7 linked regions of the Homo sapiens genome follow. The protein of the gene in region 7 purifies or fractionates together with the protein of the main gene of each other region. This does not show direct contact. Each region holds a gene or a part of one and is shown on either strand. Other genes may lie near its edges.

Region 1 (2,156 bases), on a different chromosome or scaffold from region 7:
CCGACTCAGGCTGTGTCTCCTTCACAGCGGATTCCCTGCGCTGCGCAGCCAGACTCATTGTGAGAGGTGTGGCCTCCAGGACCACAGCCTGCCTGCTGACCTGTGTGGCCCTACTTACCCCAGGCATGAATACTGACCCCCAACTCGTGTGACCCCCACTGACCATGCCTGTCTCAGTGTGGCCCTCATTGACATCCCTGCCAGAGTGTGATCCCCCTGACTCATAGGCCCTGTGTGGCCCCAGAGTCCTCTGCCTGGGTGTGGCCCCTGACTGCCCAAGGCTCAGCCAACCACTGACTCTGCTACCAAGAGCATGCCTTTGCCATTGTGGTCACTGCTGTCTGCCCGCCTGCACACCACCCCACTGACCACTCTAACTGTGACCCTACTGGCTACACTGTCTGCCGTGGCTCCCTCTGCCCGCCTAAGTGTGGGCCCCGTGACCACTCCAGTCCCTTGAATCCACTGACTGCCTACGGGCGACATCACTAGCAAGTCTGCTTGAGTGTCCCCCATTTTTACTTCCAGTCCCAGGATGTTCCCACTGACCACTCCACTGGCATCTCTGCTTGTTTCCCCATTGCCCTCTGGCCCCCAGCTTCTCCCCCACTGACCACCTTAAAGTGTGACTCCCAGTTGGCCACTCCTAACCCATTGGCCCTGTGGCCCTGCCCACCTACATCCCCCCCACCCCCACCACTGACAGATCCTTCTTGGACCACTTGTCCCAGCTCGAACCCCACTCGCTAGTGTCCTCTACTGCCTGTTGTGCCCAAGTGTATGTCCTCCTTGTCCCTGCAAGATGGGTCCCCATCCTGCTCCCTCTGCACTGTCCTCCCTCTCCCACCCCCAGAGGTCCCAGTGACCATCGTGCGGGGGCCACACGACCTAGAGGTGACCGAGGGCGACACAGCTACGTTCGAGTGCGAGCTTTCCCAAGCTTTGGCTGATGTTACCTGGGAGAAGGTCAGATCCCAGCCCCAGCCAAGCCCACTTCAGTGTAACACCAACGATAATAATGCCCCAGACAGAAACAGCTAATATTCCTTGAGCGGATGTGCCTGGCACTGTGCTAAGATTTGCATTATATTTAATCCCTTACTCCAAGGACAACTCTAGGAGGTAGGTCTTGTCACTGTAATACCTATCAGGAAACTGATGCTCAGTGGGAAAAATTACCTACCCAAGGGCAGACAACAGGTAGAGCCCATATTCGAATCCAGGTTTGCCTAACTCCAGAATCCGTGCCCATGTCCCCTGTGATCGATACCTGGCTCTGGGCTTCCCGAGTGCCTTGGCGGCCCTAAGGTCCCCAAAGGGTGACGCTTTTTCAAAGAGGCTCCTGGCACGACCCCAAAGGCTTGGGGACAGTCCGACCCCAGCCTGGGAACACGAGACACGCATAAACGCGCCTCGAGACCGCTTGGCATCAACAAAGGGTGCGCCGCCTGCCAGGGCCGGGGTCGCCTGTGCCCAGCCGGGCTCGCCCCGACCCTCTGCAACTCCCGCCCCTAGGACGGGAACGCGCTTACGCCTAGCCCGCGGCTCCGGCTCCAGGCCCTCGGCACGCGCCGCCTTCTCCAGCTGCGACGCTGCGGCCCCTCGGACGCCGGGACCTACAGCTGCGCGGTGGGGACGGCCCGCGCCGGACCGGTCCGCCTGACCGTGCGCGGTGGGTACGGGGTGATGTGGAGGCTGGGCACTGCTTTGGGCGCGAGACTTGCGGAGCTGTCTTCCCCGGACCCTGATGACCGCGCGTGCTTCTAGAAAGGGGGCGTGGAGGGGGCGTGACCGGTAACTGCCCTCTGCCCCGCCCCGCTCACGCCCCGGGCTCCGCCCCAGAGCGTACTGTGGCGGTACTCTCCGAGCTGCGGTCGGTGAGCGCCCGCGAAGGCGACGGCGCTACGTTCGAGTGCACCGTGTCGGAGGTCGAGACCACGGGGCGCTGGGAGCTCGGAGGCCGCCCGCTGAGACCCGGAGCCCGCGTCCGCATCCGACAGGAAGGTCTGCCCGCCTGGTTACCCTTTCGGGCCCCTCGCTGCCCCGCCCAGGCTCGAACAGATCCCGCCCCACCGGGACAAGCCCCGCCCCTGGCTCCGACGGGCCCCGCCCCACGGCCCTGTGAGCCTCGTCCCTGTTCTTTCCCCCGCCCCCAG
Region 2 (3,500 bases), on a different chromosome or scaffold from region 7:
TGGGGTTTCACCATGTTGGCCAGGCTGGTCTCAAACACCTGACCTTGTGATCCGCCCACCTCGGCCTCCCGAAGTGCTGGGATTACAGGCATGAGCCACCGCGCCCGGCCATTCTTTGAGTTTTCATCAACCAGTGGATACAGAAGTGTGCTGCCCATTTTGCAGATTAGAGAATTGAGGCTAGTAAATAAGTCGGGACTTAGTTGATGCCCTTGCTCTTTGAGTTCTGGGCTCTGGAGGCTTTGGATTCAAAGCCCTGCTGCACCATTTACTCATCATGTGACTTTGGGAAGGTGACCATTCTCTGAGCCTCACTTCTCCTCCTCTGCAAAATGGGATTCCAGTTCCTACCTTGCAGGACCGCTGTTGTAGAATCATACATGGAGATTGCTCAGTCCTGGGCCAACTTGGCCTACGAGGAGATACCAGTAAACGACCTTATCCGCGGGCAGGGACTGCTCTTGGCTTCTGTCTCATTCTCTCTGGTCCAGAGGAGGTGTTCCATAAATATTCTCAGAATGAGTGAATGGCTGAAGGGAGTGAACGGAACAGTCAGTGGATTAAAAATTCATTAGCTCATCCATTCACAAATAGTTTTTGAGCATCCGTTCTGTGCCAGGCACCGTTCCCAGCACTAGGGATATCACATCTCAGGGCCCTGGACAGGAGGCCCTGCCCTTTTGGAGCTTTCAGTCTAGCTGGGGAGACAGACAGTTAATCAAGTTAAGTCTTCGTGTGTCAGCAGGTGATTAAGGCCTGTTTAGAAGAAGCAGTGGGGAAGGGGCTGAGGGAAGCTTGGAGAGTTTAGTAGGGTGGTCAGGAAAGCCCTCACTAAGAGGTGATACTGAAATAAAGACCTGAAGGAGGCAGGTGAGAAGAGTTGCCTGGGGAAGGGCATTTTTTTTTTTTTTTTTCCTGAGATAGGGTCTCACTCTGTCGTCCATGCTGGAGTGCAGTGGTACGATCTTCGTTCACTGCAACCTCCGCCTCCCAGGCTCAAGCAGTCCTCCCATATCAGCCTCCTGAGTAGCTGGGACTACATGCATGCACCACCACAACTGGCTAACTTTTGTATTTTTTGTAGAGGCGGGGTCTCTTTGTGTTGCCCAAGCTGGTCTCGAACTCCTGGGCTCAAGCTATTCTCCTGCTTTGGCCTCCCAAAGCGCTGGGATTATAGGCGTGAGCCATCACACCCAGCCAAGAAGGACATTCTGAGTATCGGGGCCAGCTAGGACAAATGCAGGATTGCACAGAAGCCGTGTGGCCAGTGCAGTTACTGAGGGAGAGAAGATGGTAGATGAGTTCCAAGAAATAACGGAGGGGCTGGCTCATGGAGAGTCTGGAAGGTCACGGAGAGATTTTGCCTTACTCTTAGTTGGAAGCCTGTGGAGGAGCCTTTCTCATTGGGGCTCACCTGAGCCCTGGAAGGCAGAAGTGACTAGAGTGATTATTTGTTCAGTTCTCCCAGGGATGGGAGGCACCTCATCCTGGGAGAGCAGCTCCTTAGTTGCATACACTGGCTGCCTGAGAGCATTAGGGCCTCAGGCTCTGGAACCCTGCTTGAGAGAGGCTGCGAAGTGTTCAGAGCAGGACAGTGCCAGGTGCTGGCTGATACTTCACAGAGCATCGCTGTGGCGGCTGCAGAGGACAGACAGGCCCAGGCATTGGAGCCTGAGGCCAGTCACACAGCATTGCAGGCTTGGGGTGGTTGAATGGGATGGTGAGAGGAGGTCAGATTCTGGGTGTATTTTTTCTTTTTTTTTTATTTTGAGGTGGAGTCTCGCTCTGTCGCCCAGGCTGGAGTACAGTGGCATGATCTCCCCTCACTGCAACCTCCGCCTCCCGGGTTCAAGCAATTCTGCCTCAGCCTCCTGAGTAGCTGGGACTATAGGCGCCCGCCACCATGCCTGGCTAATTTTTGTATTTTTAGTAGAGATTTTGTATCTCTACTTGTATTTCACCATATTGGCTAGGCTGGTCTGGAACTCCTGACTTTGTGATCCGCCTGCCTCAGCCTCCCAAAGTGCTGGGATTACAGGCGTGAGCCACCACGCCCAGCCACTTCTGGGTGTATTTTGAAGGTCGAGCCCACAGGATTTGTGGAAGGATTGGATGAGGAAAAGAGGGGCAGATGCCGAGGTTTTTTGTCTAAGCACCTAGCGGGATGGGGGGTTGTCACTCATTTGTCCAGGAATTACCTTCAAGCTGCCTCCTGTGTGCACTGCTTTAAAGAATAGTGAACCAAACAAAGATCGCTTCCTTTGGGGAGCTGCCTTTCCGTGAAGAAATTTCCTACTTGAAGCCTGACGTAGTAAAGATCGGGGGAGGGTTAGACAGATACAGTGGTCCCCAACCATTTTGGCACCAGGGACTGGTCTTATGGAAGACAGTTTTTCCACAGACTGTTGGGGGGATGGTTTTGGGATGAAACCGTTCTGCCTCTGATCATCAGGTGTTAGATTCTAATAAGGAGCGCACACCTAGATCCCTCGCATGCATAGTTCATGGTGGGGTTCGCACTCTTACGAGGATTGAATGGTGCGCTGCTCCGGTAGGAGGCTGGGCTCAGGCTGTAATGCCTGCTCGCCCACCACTCACCTCCTGCTGCATGGCCTGGTTCCTAACAGGCCACGGACCACTACTGTTCCATGGCCCGGAGGTTGAGGACCCCGAGATACAGGACAATTCTGTGGCAAGCAGGACTGTCCCCTCGCCAAAGATGGGACATCGAGGCTCCTTGGAGCACCCTGTGGCCACCTTGCAGCAGCCTCTGTTTCCCCATGTTTCCATGACCTGGTGTCCATCTGTCTTCCCCAGTTTGGGAGCTTCTCTCCGAGGAGGACCTGGGCCTGGTGTGGCACCTGCTGTGTGAGCGGGGCCATGTCCAACGGCCTTCTTGGGGACTTTGGGTCGGGGAGAAGTTCTGCCTGGGTTTTACTGCCTTCTCCCAACCCCACACTGTCTCCCCTGGCAGCGGTTGATCGACAAGACCAAGGTGACATATCTGAAGTGGCTGCCTGAGTCGGAGAGCCTGTTCCTGGCATCACACGCCAGTGGCCACCTGTACCTGTACAACGTCAGCCACCCCTGCGCCTCGGCCCCGCCCCAGTACAGCCTGCTGAAGCAGGGCGAGGGCTTCTCTGTCTATGCTGCCAAGAGCAAGGCACCCCGCAACCCGCTGGCCAAGTGGGCGGTGGGTGAGGGGCCCCTCAACGAGTTCGCCTTCTCGCCCGATGGCCGGCACCTGGCCTGTGTGAGCCAGGATGGCTGCCTGCGCGTCTTCCACTTCGACTCCATGCTCCTGCGTGGGCTCATGAAGAGCTACTTTGGGGGCCTGCTGTGTGTGTGCTGGAGCCCTGACGGCCGCTACGTGGTGACGGGTGGCGAAGATGACCTGGTCACCGTGTGGTCCTTCACCGAGGGCCGCGTGGTGGCTCGAGGCCATGGCCACAAGTCCTGGGTCAACGCTGTGGCCTTTGACCCCTACACCACAAGGGCAG
Region 3 (2,744 bases), on a different chromosome or scaffold from region 7:
ACTGCTCATGGGCGGGTGCAGAAGACTGAGCTAGGCACGGAAGTTTGAGTTGGAGGCCGGTAGATGAGGGCCATGTGGAGGAAGGGAGCGACAGGGGCAGCCAGTAGCACCAGGGGAGCCAGGATTTTGCAAGAGAGAGGGAAAGGGACATGGGGGTGCCTGTCCCTGGGGGAGGGTTGGGTGCCCTGGGAGAGCCTGCCCTCCGGCCTCCTGTGTTCCTGTGTGAAATGCTGGAGGCTGGGGGCCCGGAGGAGCTCTGGGCTTAGGAAGATCTGAGGACTTTGACCAAATTATCAACTTCTCTGAGCCCGTTTCCTCCTCTGTGATGTGGGGATAGTAATGGTCCCCATCTCAGTGCATTGCGGGAGGAGCAGAAACAAGGTGGTGAAGCTTTTGACCAGGTGCTGGGAATGGAGCCCCTGGGACCTGCGTGGTTTGTCCTGCTCTCATGAGAGCACGGTGTTTTGATTCCCAAGGGACTCAGGGAGCGCAACCGAATAGGGGTCCCTTCCTCCCCTCTCAGTCTCAAAACTAGGGCCAGGGACTGGCCGGATCCCCAGAAGAATCTAGTTTATCCAGCAAGTAACTGCCCACTTGTCAGACAGCTTTGGTGCTTTGGGAGGTCCCTGCAGTCAGCTTCTCAAGCCCCAGGGCCTCCTGGGCCACTGACCCCTCTGCAGTGAGACAGGGACCAACGGCTTTAGTGTTTGGGGTCCTCCCTGCGAGGCCTCCTGAGCCAGCATTATCGCTTTCCTGTATTGATGGGTGGGGGGTTAGGCCCAGAGAGGACAGGTGCTTGGCCTCAGCTTGCTCAGCATGCAAGAGGTAGAAATGGGAATGGAAGTTGGGTCCTGAGCCCAAGGCTTCCGCTCTGCTCAGGCACCACCCTGCTGCAGATTAGGAAGGACTTTGTCTGGACCCCCCCGGGGCACGGCCCCAACTCTCCCTGGGTTAGACCGAGGCCGGTGCTCTGGAGGCTGGCCTGGGGTGGCGTGGGGAGGGGCTGCCTGGTGTCTGCAGGCATGGTTGGTTGTCTGAGAAAGGACATCACAGCCAATCCTGGCCTTCTCTTGTTGCTTGTCCCGTGGGCCCGCACCACAGGCCCAGCTGAGAGCCAGCCTGGAGGTTACCCAGCAGCAGGCCACCCAGGCCGAAGGCCAGCTACTAGAGCTGCGCAAGCAAAGCAGCCAGATCCAGGTACGAGGCCTGTGCCTGCCCGCCCACCATGGCCTCACACTGCATCCTGGGGCGGCCACCAGCTGGTCCCTGGAACACCAGGCAGCAGGGAGCGGGGCTGAGCAGGGAGCTGGGCACAGGGGTCCTGGGGAGGTTCCCGGGACCCTGCCTCCCCACATCCCTGACCCTCAGCCCAGCAGGCAGCCCTGGCCCTAGCCTCCCTTGGTATGGCACAGGGCCCTGGCCACCCTGAAGCCCCTCCTGTTCCCGCCCAGAACTCGGCCTGCATCTTGGCCTCCTGGGTCTCCGGCAAGTTCAGCAGCCTGCTACAGGCCCTGGAAATACAGCACACGACAGCACTGAGGAGCATCGAGGTGGCCAAGACGCAGGCGCTGGCACAGGCTCGAGACGAGGAGCAGCGGCTGCGGGTCCATTTGGAGGCTGTGGCTCGCCATGGCTGCAGGATCCGGGAGCTCCTGGAGCAGGTGGATGAGCAGACCTTCCTGCAGGTGCGAGGGCTCAGGGCATAGGTGGCGGACTTGCTTCCCTGCCCCTCAGGCCCAGGCTTACTTGTTCTCCCTGGGGCTCAGGAATCGCAGCTCCTCCAGCCCCCAGGGCCTCTTGGGCCACTGACCCCTCTGCAGTGGGATGAAGACCAACAGCTGGGTGACCTGAAGCAGTTGCTAAGCCGGCTGTGTGGCCTCCTCTTGGAAGAGGGGAGCCACCCTGGGGCACCAGCCAAGCCTGTGGACTTAGCCCCCGTGGGTAAGACTGACCCCAGGCCTCCCCCTGCTGTCCTGGGTCCAGCTGCCCCTCCCGCTGGGGGGGTGGAGGCGGGTCAGGGCCCACACATCGTGACCTCTCCAACCATTCCCTTAACACTGCTTTGCCCCCTAGAGGCCCCAGGTCCCCTGGCACCGGTCCCAAGCACAGTTTGTCCACTGAGGAGGAAACTCTGGCAGAGTAAGGAGGCCGTTCGTGTATGTGTGCCCCTGTGTGTGCGTGTGCAAGGAAGTGCCTGTGTGTGCTGTGAGCACGTGTGTGTGTGCATGTTCGTATGCACGTGTGAGTGAGGGGGGCACTTGTTTTGACTGTCCTGCCGGGACATCTGAGCCTGGTCCCACCCGCTGCACACCTCGTGCACATCCACCCTGAAGCAGACGCAGCCAGTGTGCGTTGAAGGACAGAGTCTGGGGCACAGACCCGTAATTCTTCCACTTAACACTGAGTTAATGGCTCTCAGAGCCCCAGTTTTCTCAGCTGTGAACGGGGCTGATAGAGGATTCCGCCTGCGAGGTCGTGGCGAGGATTAAGTGCTATGGTGACGGCCGGTGCTCAGCGTGCCTGGCGGAGGTTTAGCAGCGGATAAATGGAGATCTGGTTGTGCTGTCTTCCCCCAGCCCACTGCTGTCCTCCTTTCCCCAACAGATTATCGCAATCTGACCTTTGATCCAGTCAGCGCCAACCGTCACTTCTATCTGTCGCGCCAGGACCAGCAGGTGAAGCACTGTCGTCAGTCCCGGGGCCCAGGCGGGCCCGGCAGCTTTGAGCTCTGGCAGGTGCAATGT
Region 4 (3,500 bases), on a different chromosome or scaffold from region 7:
CTTCGTGCAAACCCAACATGCTGGGACTGGGCAGCGAGACGCTGGAGACCAGCTGCAGCAGAGCTACTGATGGAGGTGGGAGAAACAGCAGATGTGCTACCTCCTCCGGCTGACACTGTGGAACCTGTGGGGATGCTTACAATTACTTGGCCCTGAGACAAGGGCACTACTGAAGAATTCATTCCAGTTGGTTTGTTGAATAAATTCTGGAAAAACAAAACAACAAAAAGTATCAATTTAATCTTTGTTAAAACAAAGAAGTATTGTGTGCCTACATATGCCAAGCACCGTTCTAGGCATGTAAGGTACATCTGTTAACAGGCAATGTTCCTGCCTCTGAGCAGCTTATTACGGAATGGGGGGAGTCTCATTTATGATGAAAAAATAAAATAACTTAACTAATAATCTTCCTCAAAAATAATATCCTCCCAATAGATAATATGGGTGATAAAAGTACCATTCAATTTTATAGAAGGCAGTTAAATTAAATTCCAAATACAGAATGAACTACAAATCCAAGTTTAATAGGAATGATATAGAAACTTATACAACCCAGGCCCTAGCAAACACCTAATAAATGTGCATTACTATAGTAGGTGATAGGTTTGAATTCGTGTCCCTGCCCAAATCTCATGTCCAGTCGGTAATCCCCAATGTTGGGGGAGGAGCCTGGCAGGAAGTGACTGGATCATGGGGGTGGATTTCTCCCCTGCTGTTCTGGTGATAGTGAGTTCTCACTATCTGGTTGTTTAAAAGTGTAGCACCTCCCGCTTCTCTCTCTTCCTCTTGAGCCCATCATGTAAGACGTGCCGGCTTCCCCTTCGCCTTCCGCCATAATTGAAAGTTTCCTGAGGCCTCTCCAGCCATGCTACCTGTACAGCCTGTGGAACTGTGAGCCAATTAAACCTCTTTCTTTATAAATTACCCAGTCTAGGGTATTTCTTTAGAGGAGTGCAAGAACAGACTCATACAGTAGGTGACTCACTGACTGAAGAAGAGGAAGGTTCCTGAAGCCATACCTGGAAAGCTACCACACAGCTGTAGCTGCAGAAGTTGCGTATACTTCCATCTGACATGGCTAGGTGATACTGAGGAATTGCTGAGGTTTTACAACTGTTACACTGAACTTGTACACCTTAGCAAATCAAAATAAAAACCAATGAGTAATATGTACAAATGTACACAAAAGTATGAGAAATTAAATAATACTATACAATATAAGAAAATTTAAGAGCCAGGGTAAGTTGTAGGAACTGAAACTAAATCATGTCACATATAGACAAAAACTAACATAATACTGAAAATGTTTCTTTCCAATTTAAATTGGTCAAAGTCTACCCTGAAACTACCAGATAAATGAAACTTCAAAGAAATTAGGTAGGGAAAAAGAAAATATATTAAAGAAGCCATATGAAATTCTTTTGGTAAGGGGGAAATGCATAAATAGGTATGCAAGTAAATAAATAAGCAATCAAGGTAACAGGTGATATTTTACAACAAATATCTGAAATATGTTAAATGTGCCTTAAAAATCAACCAAAAAAAACCGTTAAAAACAAAGCAATAACCATTATTTTTCAACCATTGCATTTCATAGTTTGTGAAACCAATATTACCTGCAGAAGTAACCATTTTAACTCTGTAAGCAGATAAGCAATTAACAGAACAGAAAAGCTCTGTCTTCCCCAAGCTATTGGTATTTTCAATCATTTCTGCTGAGGATCTCAATGATTTGCAAAGCGCACACGGTGTAATTTTGGCTGATTTCTATTAAGAGAATAAAACAACATTCATTTTTAACAAATTCCTAGTAAAAGCATAATTCTTCGAAATGTTTATACTCAACACTTTTGAAATATTTGAAATCAGTGATTTTCAAACTTTTATGATTGTAATCCTCAATAGGAAGTTTCATGGTACACATGTACTTCTGAGATTTTGCATTTGTGTATGATGCATGTATGTAATAAAACTAAAAAGTTTTATAGAGGAATAAATATCATGATAACATGTAATGCACTTTGATATTTTCCAATCTATTCTATTTCATTGAAAAAGTAATGCGGCCAGGCGTAGTGGCTCACCCCTATAATCCCAGCACATCGGGAGGCCGAGGTGGGTGGATCACCTGAGGTCAGGAGTTCAAGACCAGCAAGGTCAACATGGTGAAACCCTGCCTCTACAAAAATACAAAAAAAATTAGCCAGGCATAGTGGCAGGCGCCTGTAGTCCCAGCTATTCAGGAGGCTGAGGCAGGAGAATGGCGTGAACCAGGAGGCAGAGCTTGCAGCGAGCTGAGATCGTGCCACTGCACTCCAGCCTGGCGACAGAATGAGAAGATTCCACCTCAAAAAAAAAAAAAAAAAAGAAAAAGAAAAAAATAATAATGCTGGTTATAACCTAGTAATTAATTTCAGGGTCTATTAATAGGTCATAACCACAGTTTTAAAAACATTAAATAACAGCAAGTTCATGCTTTTATACTATATCATCCTATAAATTGAAATAACCCCCTCCAAAGGTGCTTGTAAATATGAATTTAAGGAAATTAGTAACCTTATTAGGCAACTTATTGGCAAATATTCTACCACTAATAATAAAAAAAATACTCCATAAGCGTAAAGTAAGAGCAAACCTGGGATATCATCACAGGTGTCCAAATACAAACAACCAGAGTCCGTTATCTTAAGTCTTCACCCAATTAGGGATTCAGCAGCAAATAATGCTAAGTATTATTAACATGTCACACATTCAGGATAATTTTTAAAGTACGTCCAGCACCAATTAGGAGATTTTAAGAGCAATCTTCCTTCTTAAAGAATCAATTTGTAAAACTTGATATTAAAATAAATACACAGTAAAGTGAATATATGCCTGAATTCTGGAATGTCTTCTAAATCTCTAACCCCATTTCCCTCTCCTCCCTAATGAGGACTGTAAAAGCAAACCTCATTTGTAAGACCCAGATCAAGAGTTACCTCTGTGAAGCTTCTGCTGATAGTCTCATCTTTCCCTATCAAGTAGAGCTCACTATGCTACCTCTGTGGCCCACTGTACCCATAATACTTCCATCATAGCATCTCTATTTACTCATTTATACGTCTTATCTTTCTCAGGAGACAGGCAGCCCCTCAAAACAGAAATTATATCTAATGTTTGTTGAATGAATTATATATAAGGAAGAAAGGAAGGTAGCAGAAATGACCATCTACAATGCCTCAGTTACATACTAGGCATTCTTTCATTCTTACTTTCTATAATCCTAAAAACATCCCAGTGACATAGGTGGTATCATAGTTATTTACAGACAGAAAAACTGGGACTCAGGGAGCTTAACTGCTTTCCCCAAGGTAAAACTGTATTTGAACATAAGGTCTAGAATTAAATGTAGATCTGCCTTACTTCTAAATTCCAGTTCTTTCTCTACCACAGCAGATATAATACATGAAAAATTTAATAGGTTTTGACTAAATTAAAAGTAAAGAATAAATTTAAAATTA
Region 5 (4,100 bases), on a different chromosome or scaffold from region 7:
TAAGAGAAGAACGAAGAAATAAGGGCAGAAACTCCACTGGGGAGTACTTGTCTAACCCTGAAAAAGTTCAAGGCTGTTGTTCAAGGTCTGAATTTTTCCCTTGAGATTTGCTTGTAGTCCTTAAAGTCATCTTCAGACATCTGATCAAGGCAGCATCCGCGGAAAATTATAAGGTGGGTGGCTGCACTGGAGCCTGTCCTGGCTCAGGGGCGCCGGTGAAGAGTGATTTTTTTCCCTTGGCCTTGGGGGATCAGAGGGGGTGCCCTCTGCTATGCAGGAAGCCCTCCTTGCCCGCTAGATAGTTCTCATTCCTCAGGAGATACTCTGTGAGGGGCCGGCGTGTTTTCTCCATCTTGGCACTTACCCTCAGACCCTCCTAAGTACCCGGGAGGGCCGTGTTTTTCATCGGAGGTTGAAATGGAACCTCCCCCTGGGTGCCCGGGGAGAGTACCTTGGGGGCAGCGCCCCTCCTTCCGGAGGGCAGCATCCCCGCGGGGGCGGGGGCTCGGCTTTGATCCCAGGGCACCTTTTGTCCCTGGAGACGCTCTGCCAGCCAGGTACGTGGAGGGAGTGCAGCCCGCCCTCCCGGGCGACGCGCGGGGCTGGGGCGGGCCGGCGGCTCCGGGGAGTGGCGGCCGGGAGCCCGCGAACGCGGGTGGGCGCCGTCGCCTCACTAACCGGGCGCCTCCGGGAAGTCCGGGCGGGGTCCGCCGCTCACACATAGGATTAGCGTCCTCTAAACTCCATCCCTGGGAAAAGCCGCCGCACTTCTCACCCAAACTCGCGGAGCCGAGGGGCTGGGCAGGGGTTGGGCGGGCGCGGGGGCCGGCGAGGCGGATCCGGGAACGGGTGGACCCGGGCGGCCAAGCCCCTTCAGCGCCGGCCCAACCGCCCCGGCCCGGGCCAGTCCAGCGGGGCGGGGGCCGGCGACACAAAGGCGGCGGCGGGTCCTCCGGGCCTCCGGCCTCGGGCAGTCGCAGGGCGCCCCGGGCCGCCGGACCTCCCCTCGCGTTGCGGCCCGTCAGCCGGCGCCGCCCGTCGCCCGCCCTCAGCCGTCCGGCGAGGCGCGGCTTCCTCCGCCGGCGCGGGGTCCCCTGGTTAACCCCTGCCCGGCAGCGCGGCCGCTGATTGGAGAAGGCGGGGCGCCGGGGCAGCGGGGACCCCCCCCCACCTTCCTCGTCCCCTCCCCCTGCTCCCCCACTGTCGGCGCTTCCCCCACCCCCCCAGGACCCCCCCCGCCTCCCAGCCGTGCAAATCTCGCGAGGAAACACGCGGTTTCACTAGTGTGTTTACACCGATCACTACTAATCCGGACCGAACCGATCCGGATTAAGGGGCCGGAGGCGGGTCCTGGGCACCAGCGGTTCCGACCCCCCCGCCCTCCGCGCCGCACCCGAGTGGCCCCCAGCCGAGCGGGCCCCCACCTCCTGGCCCGGCCTGGGCCCTCCTGCGCCTCCCTTGGCCTTTGTCCGGCGCCAGGAGGCCGGTCCCGCGCCCCCCGCGGCCGCCCGGGCCCGGGCCCGCGTCGGGCGCCTGGCTCTGTACGCGAGCCCGGGGATCTGCGGCCTTCGTGCCCCCCCTCCCCCGCCCGCCCTCTCGTGGAGCCCGGCGCCGGCGGCGGCTGCCCGGGCGGGGGGTTGCGGCGCTCAGGAGAGGCCCCGGCTCCGCCCCGGGCCTGCCCAGGGGGAGAGCGGAGCGGTCCGCAGCCGGGTCGGGTCGGGGCCCCTCCCGGGAGGAGCGTGGAGCGGCGGCGGCGGCGGCGGCAGGTGAGAGGCTGAGCCCCGGGCGGGGGAGGACTCCAGGCCTGGGGCATTAACCGTCCTGGGGACCCCTTTGGCCTGAGGAGCCTGCGACCTGGGCCCAGCTCGGGGCCGGCTCCGGACCGCAGCTCCTGGGCGCTGAGGCGGGAGGGGCTCCCTGAGGGCTGCGGGTCGCTGAGGGGCCGGGCAGAAGATGGGGGAGGCCCAGGCGGCCCCGGCCTGGGATTGGGGCCGGCGGCCGGAGGAGAGACGGGGGCCCCCAGGCAGCTGGAGGCCTCGGCAGCCTCCCGGGCGCCCCCGAGAGCCGGCCCTCCCTTCCTCCGTGACAGGTGGGCCTGGAGTTGGGGAAAGTTTGGAGCCGGCGAGGGGCGCCGGGACCAGGCCCCATCGCTCCTGCTTCCCGGCTGTGGGCTGCAGGGAGGATCCCAGTCCAAGGCCCCGCTGGAATTAGACGGAGTGGCTATTTCCTTAACATGAGTTGACATTAAACGGAATAACCGCCGGGGCGTCATTTTCCGGGCCGGGCCTGGGGATGGAGGTTTGGGAAGTGTTGCGAGAGACCTTGGGGTTTGGGAGAGACTGCAACCTTTGCCATTCCGACCTCGATTAGGGCAGGGCAAGACGCGAGGAAGGCCACGGGGGAAACTCATTCTCCCAGTCTCTTTTTTTTCCTTCTTTTTCTTTTTGTAAAGATGCATTTCAACCTTTCTGAGAATTTCCTAATTCTCTCTCTAACCTGCACTTGCATGTGTGGGTGAAACTTTAATTTGTCACCTTTTCATTCCCCTTTGCCCCAGGCTCTCAATCCAGGAAGGGAAATGAAACTGAAGGACTTGTAAGGGGGTTGTTACTGGAGATTGTAGAGTTGTTGGATTGCAGAGGAGAATGTTCGATTCATCTTTTCAGTAACTTTAAAATCACACCAACCATTCCAACTACTTAATAATGTGTTCGAAGGGGTTCTATGTAATATGTTTCTTTTCCACTGTTAATATTAAAGAGAGGTTTTAAATGGGTCGTGTAGGAGTTGGTCTCTTGCAAAGGATGAACATATTTGCTGAAAGTAGCCTGTGCATTAATTGGTTATGGAAGTTTAAAAATGGTGTCCTCCTGCCCCTCCCTGCTTGGAAGAAGGGCTAAAAGCAGATGTCCAGAATCAAGAGAAAACTACTGCAGGGAGTGGTCAGAAAAAGATTTTTTAAAGGGATTGTTATGGAGCTATATTAATTTACTGAGTGAATGGAGGTGGATGGTTTTACCGTGGGCTCTCTATTAAATTTAAAATAATTCCTTTTCTCATGAGCTACTGTGAGCTCTTCAGAGACAGGAGCTGTATAATAGTGATTTTGCAGTTATTTGTAGCTTCTGATTCATCCTATATTCTTTTGAAATTATTGTCAATGATTCATATTTTTAGTTTAAGGACTACTTCCTGAGTGGGAAATAAATATCTGAAGATACTTAGCTAGATTAAGGCTGATAGAAGGAATTTTCTTTTTGCAGGCTAGTTCTTGTTTTGTTCTTTCCCCTGTGCTCAACTTTTACAGAAATTATATGAAGGGTTTGAGGGGTTTATTTTTGCTGTTAAAATCAAATCAGAACTAGGGAAGAAAAAGTGGCTGTCATAGAAGAGGACTTCTGAGCTGCTTTAAAACTTTTCAATATATTACTGTTTGATGCAGCACATAGTAGTCTACCACTTGTATGCTATATTTACTTGAGATTTACCTGCATTTGATCTTTCAGTGAAATAATTACTGTGAGTTTTGTTCTACAGAAAATTGCCTCCTCACATTTTAGTGTTTATGGTTTCACAGCCTACTTTTTCTTTTTCAGCAGAAATGATGGAAGAATTGCATAGCCTGGACCCACGACGGCAGGAATTATTGGAGGCCAGGTTTACTGGAGTAGGTGTTAGTAAGGTGAGTAAAATGATGATCATGAACACTATTCATATTCTAATTTAAACACATTTTTTAAATGATTAAGAGCAATTTGGGTAGGCCCTTCTGATAGTTTGCAGGGGAGAAGATTTGGGTCTTAATTTCAGTGAACTTTTAGATCCTACTGGTCATTCCAGTAGTCATTTAACATAGTAGGTTTGAAAATGTTCTATATGGGAATATATGTTTCTTCTTCCTTTCTGGTATAGGAGAGGTTTCTCATGGTTCTTGTTACAAGGAAACTAACAGGATGTGTGTATAGATTCTATGCCATATTTTGTTAAAACTTGTCAGCCATTCAGAAAGAAAATTACAAGGCATTGCATAGCTTTGTTACATTGGACTTTGGAGGTAGTTACATGGTAGAGTATTGAAAAATTGGCCTCTGTGAAGTCTG
Region 6 (2,684 bases), on a different chromosome or scaffold from region 7:
GTTTAAGTCACTTTCAGACATGAATGAACACAGGATATAATATAGCCAATGATCAGAATTGGCAGAGGAAATAAACACCTCCTTTCTGCATCCTAGAAACACACACATTTAAGTGCCATTTTGAAGCAGGCACTATACCACAGATACCAGGTGAGGAAGTCCTTTCCCAGACCACTCCCAATTCCCAATTTCAACTCTTCAAGGGAGTAATCATCTACTAGAAGACAGACAAATGGGAATGTTCTTACCAAAGAGAAACTACTCTGGCTTCTTTATTTCTGGAATGTTTCATGACAATAACCATCAACTCAAACTTCTTGGCTTTCAGTAAACTTCCTAAAATTAGGAAGGAACAAATCTAGTTCAAATCCTATCAGATTTATTTCTCAGCTGAAAAAAACAATTCTTTTAAGGTCTTCCAACAGCTAATTTCAAATTCTCCACGTTTCTTGGAATAAAAATGCTGCTTGCAATATTAAACAATCATAAATACACACACATTATGTAATTGCCTGTTTATTTAGTGGCACCAGTTTTCCAAACTAGAAATTATTTCTACTTTTCATCTAACATACAATCTGCAACCATTCGCAGGCTGAATGCAATTTTTCAATGAACTTGAAAACAAACAGTACATTCTTAAAGTTAGAACTGAATTCACATATTTTCTTTGGACCAGGAAATAATACATAATACAAAATATACATTTATGGAATTTCTTTAAAAGTGTGGATCACATAAACTGCAAAGTGGGTGAGTTGCTACGGAGAATTTTGTTACACATTGTATTTAAGAAAAATATTTCTGCAATTATATTATTCTTAACATTTATAGAGTTTAAAAAATGAATATATAATGCAACATGCTTTTAACATGTACATGTCTCTCCACTCATAACATTTATACAAATTAAGTGATATAACTCATTTCAAGAGTGAAATCAATCACTATTGGGGCATATCACTACAAACAAGATATTTTCCTGCAGATATGCTATTTAGTCAAGGGATAACCAGGTAAGATAATGGTTTCTATGTTCCAGAAGTCCCACAAATGGGAATTAAATAAGCTGTCATTAAACATCTAATTTTGGCAACAAATGCAAAATTCTATACGTTTGTTACATTGTACTTATTATATTTTAGAAATCTCATTAACTGTGTGCATTGGTGGTGGTTGTCCGACTTGGATGTTATTTTAACATCCTGAATTAGTAAGTAAATAACCTAATTCCTTAGAATATGAAATGAATTGAACATTTAATGAATCCTAATACTAGAAAGCTCAAAATCTTAAAACCTGGAGATCTGACAGGTAAATAAATGTATTACTTGTTAATATAGTATATCTGCACTATGGAGGCCAAAAATGTTCCAGATACATTCCATTTCTGTTTTACCTCTTTTCTGTTGAATTTCTAAAGTGGCAAATCTTAGAGAAAGACATTAACCTCCAAAACTTCTGAATACTATGTTTTTTTTTCACCTTTTAATCACTTTCCCCACCCCAAATATAATATTTTTTAAAAAGTATATTTTAATGTCAGATTCTAGCCAGGTCCCCTATCTACCTCTAGAGTGAAACAATTCCTTAAAATAGACTCAAGTTATTTTCATGCCCTAGAAATATACTTTTGGGCTTTGCAGGAAAAGGGATGATGCCCTATTGTACTTTAGAATGGGCTCTTAACCAGGGGGCCCATGAACCACTACAATATTGTAAACTTTAGGGAGATATGTATGTTATATACGCATTTTCCTGGGTAAATAAGTCCCTAGGATTCATCAGTCTCAAAACGCCTGTGACCCCAAAAGGTTAAGAAGCATTGCTAAAATGATTTTGTGTCATTCACTGTACCTAATTAGGATATAACTAATTTTGTTCCGCAGCTACCCGATCTCTTACATCAATCTAACTTACTTTAGATAGTACCATACAAATGCACGTTACTAAATAGTCTTATACTGGATCAGGAGGACTATGTAAAAGAAAAAGAAAAACTCTAAACAACTTTTCTAAACATTTAGTTTAATGAGAAAACCATTAGTTGAAAACTGGGTTTTGGAGCAATGAAAAGAAATGAAGGGTTGGGTTTTCTAGTGAAGAAACATTGCATTAATTCTTCTCAGTTGTTTCTATGCTGAAGAATCAGTAACTTATTAATTTCCTTGCTGGAAAAATCAAATTATCTGAAGCAGCAAAGGTTCATTCTTGTTGGTTTATGTGACACAATAGTTCTTATAAATTTACAGCCACGTACAAGGAAGACTTTCCTATGGCTTTTAAAACAATTAAGAGTAATCCTTCCCTACCTATCCCACTGCCATTTCCCCATTCCTCCATCTCCCAAGTTTTCTCATTTTCAGCCCGGTTTAACACAGTATTAGCTGGCCTTGATGAAGTAACACACTAAGCTTTCTTGCTCAAGAAAATGGAATTGGCCTGTTTCTGTTTGAAAAAAAGAGAAAACACCAAGAGGAAAGTAGAGGAAACAAGGGCAATATTTCGTGCAGGATAAGGAAGAAAAAAAGTCCACTTTGTTGTTATATCAACTTAATCTTTTTTCTCCATCTCATAAAAATATAAGTTGTCAACTGTAATTTCAATACCATCTAAGTTTTTCTAATTAGCACTCCTACCTGCTAGTAATATAAATAGGAAAACAGTGAGAGCAGAAGCCACTA
Region 7 (3,500 bases):
CAAGCAATCCTCCCACCTTGGCCTCCCAAAGTGCTGAGATTACAGGTGTGAGCCACCGCGCCCAGCCCTGCCATCACTTTTTTAGTTTTGACCCATCTAAGCACCATTAAATGGGGGAAATTAGGTGTGGGGTACATGGGAACTCTCTGTACCATTTTGGCAACTTTTCTGTAAATCTAAAAGTATTTCCCAATACAAAGTTTATTTAAAAAAAGTTCAAGTGGCCGGGCACGGTGGCTCATCCCTGTAATCCCAGCACTTTGGGAGGCCGAGGCAGGTGGATCACCTGAGGTCAGCAGTTCAAGACTAGCCTGACCAATGTGGCAAAACCCCATCTCTACTAAAAATACAAAGAATTAGCCGGGCATAGTGGCACACGCCTGTAATCCCAGCTACACAGGAGGTTGAGGCAGGAGAATCGCTTGAACCCGGGAGGCAGAGGTTGCAGTGAGCCAAGACTGTGCTACTGCACTCCAGCCTGGGTGACAGAGTGAGACTCTGTCTCAAAAAAAAAAAAAAAAAAGTTCAAGTGGAGGGAATCGAGGAACTGGCTGAGGGCCGGGGAAGGGGGCGGGGTGGGTAGGGACTGCTGGTACCTCTTGGTGTTTTTTAATCTGAGGACTCTGGCCTTGGGCCTCCCAGGCTGCCTCTGCAGCTTAAGCAGGGGTAGGGGATCAGGGCTCATTCTTGGACCTGCACCTTTGGGTCATCCCCGACACGTTGCCTGTGCCTTCAGAGCCAGGCTTGAGGGGTCATGTGGCCACCAGGCCCCGATGTGTAAGAAGGACAAAGGCAGGGGCTGACCTAGAGGAAACACTGGACCCTAGAGAAGGCCCATACCCCAGGAAGCTGCCCACTGAAGGCCTAGGAGAGTGGGGCCCAGACTGGGGACAGGGTTGGGGTGGGTGAGGCTCAGCTGCTTCCAGGAGAGTGGGCAGAGACAGAGCCAAGAGGTCCACCATCCCAAAGTCCTGAAGCCACTGGATTTTGGTGCCCCCCCTGCTGCCACCACTTGTGCTGCCCACTGCGGGCTCCTGACCCTGCCCAGCCCGGCCGCACCCCCACCTGGCTGCTGTTGGAGAAGGCGTACAGGGCCAGGGGCTTCTCCCGCCGGTTGATGAACTCGATGGCCTCGTCCAAGCTCTGCACGTTCACGATGGGCAGGATGGGCCCGAAGATCTCCTCCTGCATCACAGGCTCCATCTCCTGCACATCCACCAGCACCGTGGGGGCTGCAGGCACCAGAGACAGCTCAGCCCTGGGGCCACAGTCAGGACCGCCCCCAGGGTGGGGGTAGAGGTGGGGACAGGGCCACAGGCCAGGGCTCTAGGCCAGGATCCCAAGGTCTGACTTCCCAAGGCTTCAGGCTTTGGAGTGTTTAGGGAAGAAAGTCTCCCCACAGCCCCCCAGAAGGGACTCTAGAGCTTCCCCAGCCTGCTCAGGGCCTGTGGGACACAGAGAATCCCCCGACCTTGGTCTCACAGTCAGGGGTGATGGGATCTTAGAACCCTTGGAGTTCATGAGGCAACAGCGTCCCAGAATGTTGGCGCCGCAGTGTCCCATGAGCTGCTGAGCCGTACGGCCCAGGAGACTGGGGGCTCAGGACGGGACTCTCGGAGTTTAGAACCTGGGGATTGTGGGCTCGGAGAATCTGAGGTTACAGCCTTTCAGGATAGCCAGTGGTGGGATGGGAGTTCATCTTAGCACGCTGAGCCCTGGAGCCCTGGGATCTGAGCTCAGCGAATCCAAGGTGAGGGACCAGAGTTTGGCCTCATAGGGCCACAGACTTAGAAGCACAGAGACGGAATCATGGCACTGGAGCTGTGGCTCAAGGCCGGGCTCTGGCAGTGGGGCCAGGTTTCAGGCGCGGGTCCAGAGTTGTGGCCCAGCCTTGGGCCCTCCAGTGAGGAGGGGTCTTGGCCCAGGTGGGCTGTGGTAGGGGCAGCAGGACTCACCGATGTAGCGATCGCTCTCATCGCTCTGGCCCCCAATGGCCACACGGCCGCAGCCCAGCAATGCCCGCAGCCGCTGGAACTGTTTCTGGTTGATGATGCGGCCCAGGTTTGGGGAGCTCTGGGGGTCGTCGCCATAGAAACGGGTGATGGTGCTCTGCAGGGCAGGCAGCAGCCTCTCCTGCATCTCAGGGCTGCATAGGACGTAGTCGGGGGCCACGCAGGTCTGGCCGGCGTTGAAGTAGCGGAACCAGGCCACGCGGTTGGCCACGGTCTGGGGGTCGCAGTTGTCGTCCACGTAGCAAGGGTTCTTGCCCCCCAGCTCCAGGGTGACAGGTGTCAGGTGCTTGGCGGCAGCAGTCATAACAATCTTGCCCACACGAGGGCTCCCTGGGCATGGAAGGAAACCAGAGTGGCCGTTCAGTGACCTGGACCAGGCGGGATGGCCCAGCCCACGGCCCCGCTCCTCCCTGGAGAGGTGGTGGAGTCAGCGGGCAGCAGCCCTCGCCTGGCCTTTCCTTGTTCCTCACTGCCACCCTGCAGCCCAGGGCCCTGCTCATCCTTCATCAGGACCAGCCCCTAAGCACAGAGTCTCAGGAGGGAATGGTGCACGGCTGCTATCGGCCCCCAGGGTCCCCCTGCTGAGCCAAACCCCTTGGCTCCTCCCGCCTCTGCTTGTGACCCTGGCTGACCCTGCAGGGGACTCTTTGCAAAATGCTGCATGGAACCCCTCCCCACCCATCTCCTTTGGAAACTTCGGGGATCCCTTATCACCCAAGGATGGAGTCCAGCTCTGTCTACGGCATTCAGGTCTCTCTTCTCTAAACCTAAACCTGGAAGTTCTGCCACCTGCCCAGCCCTTTTTTTCTGACCCTTGAGGTGGACTGTCCCAGGCTGATGCAGGCGTCCCCATGTCCTGCCTGGCTTGGCCTCACCTCTCCTCTGTGCTGGCCTCCAGGGGCCCAGCAGTCTCCGCATGCACACAGCCTTCTCTGCCCTAGCCCTGTCTGGGCCTCAAGGCCTCCTCTCCAGACCTGACTCGGGGACCACGCTGCTGCGTCTGTGGGGATGGCCCTGGCATTTCTCCCCCTTGTGGTCAAGGATTAAAGCCGGCAGGAGCCACTGTGCCTTCTCTACTCTCACCCCTGCCCCATCCTGGCACAGTGCTTCCTGGGCTCTGTGGTTCCTTCCAGGGCTCCTTTGCCTTTGCTGGGAGGCGGCCAGGTCAATCCTGCCAGGCCCTTCCCCACGACTGCCTCGACCTGTAAGGCGCAGACTCGCCTGCCAGCACCACTGTCTTCCTCTCGCTCCCTCTGCCCCTCCCTAGCTCAAAAACTCGAAGCCGGGTGTGGTGGCTCATGCCTGTGATCCCTGCACTTTAGGAGACCAAGGCAGGAGGACTGGTTGAGGCCAAGAGTTCGAGACCAGCCTGAGCAACAGAGTGAGACCCTGTCTTTACTAAAAATACAAAAAATTAGCCGGGCGTGGTGGTACATGCCTGTCACCCCAGCTACTTGGGAAGCTGAGGCATGAGCATCACTTGAACCC

Evidence for each region.
Region 1: the proteins of ALDH3B1 (region 7) and OBSL1 purify together in Homo sapiens (affinity purification with mass spectrometry; 4 studies listed by BioGRID and IntAct, with this or other methods). This does not show direct contact.
Region 2: the proteins of ALDH3B1 (region 7) and DMWD purify together in Homo sapiens (affinity purification with mass spectrometry; 2 studies listed by BioGRID and IntAct, with this or other methods). This does not show direct contact.
Region 3: the proteins of ALDH3B1 (region 7) and TRIM65 purify together in Homo sapiens (affinity purification with mass spectrometry, with the first as the bait; one large-scale study listed by BioGRID). This does not show direct contact.
Region 4: the proteins of ALDH3B1 (region 7) and ZMYM4 purify together in Homo sapiens (affinity purification with mass spectrometry; one large-scale study listed by BioGRID and IntAct). This does not show direct contact.
Region 5: the proteins of ALDH3B1 (region 7) and TLK2 purify together in Homo sapiens (affinity purification with mass spectrometry; one large-scale study listed by BioGRID and IntAct). This does not show direct contact.
Region 6: the proteins of ALDH3B1 (region 7) and PPM1A purify together in Homo sapiens (co-immunoprecipitation; 3 studies listed by BioGRID and IntAct, with this or other methods). This does not show direct contact.

What each region holds. Positions count from the first base shown.
Region 1 is NC_000002.12:219,552,384-219,554,539, reverse strand, and holds part of OBSL1 (obscurin-like protein 1 isoform 1 precursor), read left to right. Parts: coding exon 1-66; intron 67-853; coding exon 854-966; intron 967-1,515; coding exon 1,516-1,672; intron 1,673-1,842; coding exon 1,843-2,004; intron 2,005-2,156. UniProt on the Homo sapiens protein: Core component of the 3M complex, a complex required to regulate microtubule dynamics and genome integrity. It is unclear how the 3M complex regulates microtubules, it could act by controlling the level of a microtubule stabilizer.
Region 2 is NC_000019.10:45,786,346-45,789,845, reverse strand, and holds part of DMWD (dystrophia myotonica WD repeat-containing protein), read left to right. Parts: intron 1-2,974; coding exon 2,975-3,500. UniProt on the Homo sapiens protein: Regulator of the deubiquitinating USP12/DMWD/WDR48 complex. Functions as a cofactor that promotes USP12 enzymatic activity.
Region 3 is NC_000017.11:75,891,208-75,893,951, reverse strand, and holds part of TRIM65 (E3 ubiquitin-protein ligase TRIM65), read left to right. Parts: intron 1-1,101; coding exon 1,102-1,197; intron 1,198-1,412; coding exon of another isoform or gene 1,413-1,451; coding exon 1,452-1,685; intron 1,686-1,766; coding exon 1,767-1,941; coding exon of another isoform or gene 1,942-2,073; coding exon 2,074-2,139; intron 2,140-2,604; coding exon 2,605-2,744. UniProt on the Homo sapiens protein: E3 ubiquitin ligase that plays a role in several processes including innate immnity, autophagy or inflammation.
Region 4 is NC_000001.11:35,383,709-35,387,208, reverse strand, and holds part of ZMYM4 (zinc finger MYM-type protein 4), read right to left. Parts: intron 1,768-3,500; coding exon 1,617-1,767; intron 1,136-1,616; coding exon 1,020-1,135; intron 207-1,019; coding exon 1-206. UniProt on the Homo sapiens protein: Plays a role in the regulation of cell morphology and cytoskeletal organization.
Region 5 is NC_000017.11:62,477,525-62,481,624, forward strand, and holds the start of TLK2 (serine/threonine-protein kinase tousled-like 2), read left to right. Parts: upstream 1-1,300; 5' UTR 1,301-1,766; intron 1,767-1,919; exon of another isoform or gene 1,920-1,953; coding exon of another isoform or gene 1,954-2,089; intron 2,090-3,243; exon of another isoform or gene 3,244-3,263; intron 3,264-3,596; coding exon of another isoform or gene 3,597-3,601; coding exon 3,602-3,682; intron 3,683-4,100. UniProt on the Homo sapiens protein: Serine/threonine-protein kinase involved in the process of chromatin assembly and probably also DNA replication, transcription, repair, and chromosome segregation. Phosphorylates the chromatin assembly factors ASF1A and ASF1B.
Region 6 is NC_000014.9:60,296,904-60,299,587, reverse strand, and holds the end of PPM1A (protein phosphatase 1A), read right to left. Parts: 3' UTR 501-2,684; downstream 1-500. UniProt on the Homo sapiens protein: Enzyme with a broad specificity. Negatively regulates TGF-beta signaling through dephosphorylating SMAD2 and SMAD3, resulting in their dissociation from SMAD4, nuclear export of the SMADs and termination of the TGF-beta-mediated signaling.
Region 7 is NC_000011.10:68,020,327-68,023,826, reverse strand, and holds part of ALDH3B1 (aldehyde dehydrogenase family 3 member B1), read right to left. Parts: intron 2,343-3,500; coding exon 1,956-2,342; intron 1,233-1,955; coding exon 1,066-1,232; intron 1-1,065. UniProt on the Homo sapiens protein: Oxidizes medium and long chain saturated and unsaturated fatty aldehydes generated in the plasma membrane into non-toxic fatty acids. May have a protective role against the cytotoxicity induced by lipid peroxidation.